Linked DNA regions of Homo sapiens: region 2 is linked to region 1. The links come from fine-mapping of genetic effects on gene expression. Tissue or cell type: whole blood. Region 1 holds a variant in brackets; the other region holds the start of a gene. All regions are shown on one strand. Distances are between the middles of the regions.

What was found. PIP is the estimated chance that this variant, and not a neighbour inherited with it, causes the effect.
Region 2: it holds the start of MARK4, and the variant in region 1 is fine-mapped to the expression of MARK4 in whole blood (TOPMed, PIP 0.95).

Annotation. Positions count from the first base shown.
Region 1 is chr19:45,299,451-45,302,128 of GRCh38, forward strand. It overlaps MARK4 (microtubule affinity regulating kinase 4), which reads left to right. Exons shown (of 17, transcript NM_001199867.2): 16 at 361-405. Among named protein-coding and RNA genes, the nearest start is that of CKM, 22 kb to the right of the region's middle. The variant T/A (reference allele first, on the strand shown) is at 1,599.
Region 2 is chr19:45,250,069-45,252,746 of GRCh38, forward strand. It overlaps MARK4 (microtubule affinity regulating kinase 4), which reads left to right and starts at 1,203. Exons shown (of 17, transcript NM_001199867.2): 1 at 1,203-1,571. The coding sequence starts at 1,521. RefSeq lists silencers at 878-1,257, 1,488-1,637 and an enhancer at 2,111-2,667.

The DNA.
Region 1 (2,678 bases):
GTTGTTTGAGCAAAGCATGAATGTATATGTGAGCGAGGGAGTGTGTGTGTGTGCACACGTGCGTGTGTCTCTCTCTTTCTCTCTGTGGCCACTTATCTATGTAAGGGTGTGTCTCTGCCCACTCCCCTCCCTTTCATCTTCCACATTCTTCAGTATCTTTCCTGTGACCTGCACTAACCATTTCAGAATGAGCCCCGTTATGGGGATGGACAAGGAGATCAAATCCTGACTCCAGGCCCTCACCAGCCCGGAGGGACTGGGGTTGAGGCAGGGGCTGCTTGGAGTCCCAGAGGCAGTGGGTTGCGGGAGGTGGGTTCCCTATGTCCAGATTAGACACTCTGTCCCCCTCCCCTCCCCTAGGGTCGCAGACGAACCTGAGAGAATCGGGGGACCTGAGGTCACAAGGTGAGTGCTTGGGCCTACCCCTGACTGCCACTTCCCCTCTCCTGCCTCAGCACCTCCCGACACTTACCCCAGGGCATTAGATGGGGCCCCAGTCTCATCCTGCAAGGCCAACTTCCTGAAATGCCCTGTGGCCCCAGCCTTCTCTGCCAGCTCCTCTCATTCCCACCCAACCCCAAGCACCTTCCCTTGATCATCTTAAACTTCAGCCTCCGGCTGGGTGCCATGGCCCAAGCCTGTAATCCCAGCACTTTGGGAGTCCAAGGGAGGCAGATCACCTGAGGTCGGGAGTTTGAGACCAGCCTAAGATGGAGAAACCCCGTCGTTACTAAAAATACAAAAATTAGCCGGGCGTAGTGGCGCATGCCTGTAATCCCAACTACTCGGGAGGCTGAGGCAGGAGAATCGCTTGAACCCGGGAGGCAGAGGTTGCGGTGAGCTGGATTGTGCCATCGCACTCCAGCCTGGGTAGCAAGAGTGAAACTCCGTCTGAAAAAAAAAAAAAAAAAAAAAAAAAAGCCTCATCCCATCCACAACTCAACTCCTCTTCTGGTCAATGCCCCCACCTCCTTTTGCCTCTCATCCAGTCATGGCACAATGTTTGCTGGCAGCTCAGGGCCAGCAGGAGGCAAACATCTGTACGGACCCAGATCATGAAGATTTTAGGCTTTGAGGGCCAGGCACCCTGTGTCACGCCTGTTCAGTTGTGCCATTGTAGTGCAAAAGCAGTCATATTCAACACAAAACAAATGGGTATGGCAGTGTTCCAATGAAACTTTATTTACAAAAGCAGACAGCACTGGAGTTTGCCAAGCCCTGGTTTTGTCTGAGTTCCCGGTTTAGAGACCCAAGTGGAAACCGGAGCCTTCCCAGCAGCTGCAACAAACTGCCAGGGCTGACTCTCATTGGTTGGGACTTGGTCACATGCTCATTCCTAAACCAATGCCTGCAGCCAGAGAGGAGAAGTACTCTGGTTGGTCAGACCTGGTCATGTGGTCACCCTTGACCCAAGCACAGTGGCCGGGAAGTAGAATGCTATCATTGGCAGAGCTGAGTCGTGCTCACCCAAGCTGAGGGGCGGCCCCACCGGAACAAGGGAGGCTAGTCCTGGGATGCTCATGTAGAGCAGCACTCTCGTACTTCAGGCGGGACGTTTCTTTGTTGTGCAGGGCCCTCTTGCACATTGGAGAATGTTT[T/A]TCATTCCTGACCTACCCCATCCCCAACCTAGTCAGTGCCAGCAGTGCTCCCATCCTAAGACATGTGACAATCAAAAAGCCCCCAGAGGCCGAGCACAGTGGCTTATGCCTGTAATTCCAACAACTCAGGAGGCCAAGGCAGGAGGATCACTTGAGCCCAGGAGGTCGAGGCTGCAGTGAGCTGTGATTGCACTACTGCATTGCAAGACCCTGTCTCAAAAAAACTAAGAAGTGGCCGGGCACTGTGGCTCTCGCCTGTAATCCCAGCACTTTGGGAGGCCAAGGCAGGTGGATCACCTGAGGCCGGGAGTTTAAGACCTGCCTGCCCAACATGGTGAGACTCCGTCTCTACTAAAAATACAAAAATTAGCTGGCCGTGGTGCCTGTTCTCCCAGCTACTTGGGAAGCTGAGGCAGGAGAATTGCTTGAACCCGGGAAGCAGAGGTTGCAGTGGGCCAAGATTGTGTCATTGCCTTCCAGCCTGGGCGACAAGAGCGAAACTCTGTCTCAAAAAAAAAAAAAAAAAAAAAAGCCGGGCGCAGTGGCTCACACCTGTAATCCCAGCACTTTGGGAGGTCGAGGCGGGCAGATCACAAGGTCAGGAGATCGAGACCATCCTGGCTGACACGGTGAAACCGTGTCTCTACTAAAAATACAAAAATTAGCTGGGGCCAGGCGTGGTGGCGCGTGCCTGTAATCCCAACTACTCAGGAGGCTATGGCAGGAGAATCGCTTCAACCCAGGAGGCGGAGGTTGTGGTGAGCCGAGATCGTTCCATTGCACTCCAGCCTGGGTAACAAGAGCAAAACTCCGTCTCAAAAAAAAAAAAAAAAAGAAAAGGAAAAAGAAATTTCTCATTCAAACATTCAAACCATGTGGCCAAGCCAGGCTGGTAAGGCCACTGTGATCTATGCGGTCATTCAGGTCCCCAGGTTATTGCATCCCGATTCCCTGGAGCCCTTGTCATCTTCACAGTTGAGGCTGGCCTGTGCCACTGCTAAGTCCAGCTCCTGGGAGATGTGGGACAGGAGAGCCTGGCACATGCAGGTTCTTTGAAGGAACTGATGTGGATGGCACATC
Region 2 (2,678 bases), 49 kb before region 1:
AATGGCTGTGTTTAACAACCAGTTCCAAAATTCCTGAGACATAACAATCAGCTCGCTCCAGCCAGATCCAGCACACTGCTGTTTTAGAAGGGGAAACTGAGGCTCAGGAAAATAAGCCTCAGATAGAAGAAGGCAGGGCACAGACCCCTTCCCAAAACCATGTGACTCCCAGGCCAAGACTATGTAATGCCTGTCTTTCTTTCATCCCACCCTGGTCCACAGAGCATGGATGGTCCCCACAGCGCTGTGTGGCCTCCGAGAGGCTCTTGTCCTCTCTGGTCTCAGCCTGCCCGCATGGGGAGTGGCTGTGCCCTGCAGGCGAATACCTGCACAGGGTTCCTTCGCACCTGCCAGTGAGCAACACACGGATTCTTCCTTTCACTTTACAAACTGGGAAAGTGAAGCCCAGAAAGGGCAAGTGCTTGCCCCGGGTCATACAGGTGGACAGAGAGGGTCCCCACACCCCAGCTGGGGTGCAAAGGAGTGGATGCTGCAGCCCCAACCTGCGGGTCTGGATCTATGTGGCTGAGTGGAGGCAGCCTGACTAGGGAGGTCACTGAGCCCTCAGCAGTGGCCAAGCCCCGCACACCATCCCCTTCACCCACCCCACCCTTAGGCCTCCGAGGGGAGAGCTTCCCCCGCTCCCCCCCGCCAACTGGGGAGAGAATGGGCCAGGGGGAGGGACAATGTGGGCAGCGCCTCTGGGGTCTTCTCTGGCTCAGTCCCTTTATCTCTATCTCTTCACAGATCTCTGCGTCTCTGTATCTCTTTGTCTCTCCCTGTGTGTGTGTGGGGTCTCTCTCAGTCTTTGTCCCTCTGCGTCTCTGGGTCTCTCTGTCTCTGTCTCCCTGCGTCTCTCTCTCTCTGTCATCTGGCTCTTCCTTCATCTCCTTGCGCCTCTCCACCCTTTTGTAACTCGTCTCTCTCTCTTCGTGTCTCTCTATCTCTACGTCTCTCGATCTCTCTCTCTGCGTCTCTGGCGCTCTGCCCCGGCCTCTCTCTCCCCTTCTCTCCTCTCCAGTGCGCCTCTCGTCTCGGGCGAGAACACGCTCCCCGCCGGCGTGCCCAGACCCGCCTCCGCCCCCGGAGCCCCCGGAGCCCCCGGCGCCCCGACCAGCCCGGGCCTGCGCCTTTAAGGGCCGGCGGCGGGGGGCGGGGTCCCGGCGCCCCGCCCTGCCCGCCCCTCCCCCTGACGTCCCTTCCTCCCTCCCCAGCCCCTCCACCGCCTCCCTCCGCCGCCGCTTGGGCCGGCTCCGCGCCCCCTCCGCGGCCCCCGCCCGCCCGCCTGCCCGCCGCCCCCATGGCGCCCGGGGTCCCCGCTGCACGGGGCCACTAGGACCCTCGGCGTCCCTTCCCCTCCCCCGCCCTGCCCCCTCTCCCGCCGCGCGGACCCGGGCGTTCTCGGCGCCCAGCTTTTGAGCTCGCGTCCCCAGGCCGGCGGGGGGGGAGGGGAAGAGAGGGGACCCTGGGACCCCCGCCCCCCCCACCCGGCCGCCCCTGCCCCCCGGGACCCGGAGAAGATGTCTTCGCGGACGGTGCTGGCCCCGGGCAACGATCGGAACTCGGACACGGTGAGTGGGGCCCGGCCCCTTGGGGAGCCCTGGCTGGGTCCAGCCGCCAAACCCTTCTCCCCGTTGTACCCCTCGCCCCGCGAGCCCCTACCCTCGTTTCCTGGGCCCGACCCGGCTCGTCACCTCTCGACCCCTCCCGGACTTCCAGGCCTCTCCACCCTCCCCACCTTTTCCAGCCCAGCCCGACCCCTGGGGGCGCCCCTCTCTCGGGACCCCTCTCTTGTCCCCGTGCAGACCGCTTCCGCTCGGGTCTGTTCCCTCCAGGAAGCCCCTTCCCCTGCTTCCAGGAGCCCCTCCCTTCTCTTGCCTGTGCTAAGCCGTTTCCCCTCCAGGCCGTCCGCGTCCGACACCTCGCCCCCTCCCGGATTTGCAGGGCCCCTGACCCCCCAAGGCCCGGCCCTGGCACTCTCAGCAGGGCCTGGCCCAGTCCTGCCTCTGGCTCCGGCCTTCCCTGTCTGGGGCTGGGTGCCGGCTCCCCAGGAGCCCCCCTCCTCTTATTCCCAGCCCTCTGCCCCTCCAGGACGCACCCAGGGCGCCTGTGGGCAGCCCCTGGCAGGAAGCTGGTTTCCACCTCTCCTGGGCCCCGGCCCTTTTCTGGCTTCTTCAAGGTCTCTCCCGTCCCAGGCCTGGTCCCCATCTTCCAAGCAGCCCTGTCCCTAGATCCCAGCACCCCGGGGCCCCCAGATGCCACCTGGACCCTTTCTGGTCTCTTCCTCTCCCAGGAAGCCTTGGCCTCCAACTTCTAGGCCCTCACCTCACCCAGGCTGGTATTTCTAGGCCCTGGACCAGTCTGACTCCAGGCCTCATCCGCCCTCTATCAACTTCTCAGCTTCAGGCAGCCCCTTCCCCAACCCCCAACCTCTGGACCCCCTGCTAGGCCAAACTCAGACCCCTTCCCCACAAACCACCGTCCTTTCTCCTGCCCCAGGGCCTCCCCCTTCCTTGCTGGGAGTCTGGCCTTCCAAGGAAGCCCCCTCCTCAGCTTCAGAGGCCTTCCTCAGCTACAGGGCCTGGCCCCAGATCCTTCTTCCAGAAAACTCCTGGACCTGAAGCCTCTCGTCTTGCCCTGGTTTCAAGCCCTTTTCCCTTGGGTCAATCTGCTGGAAG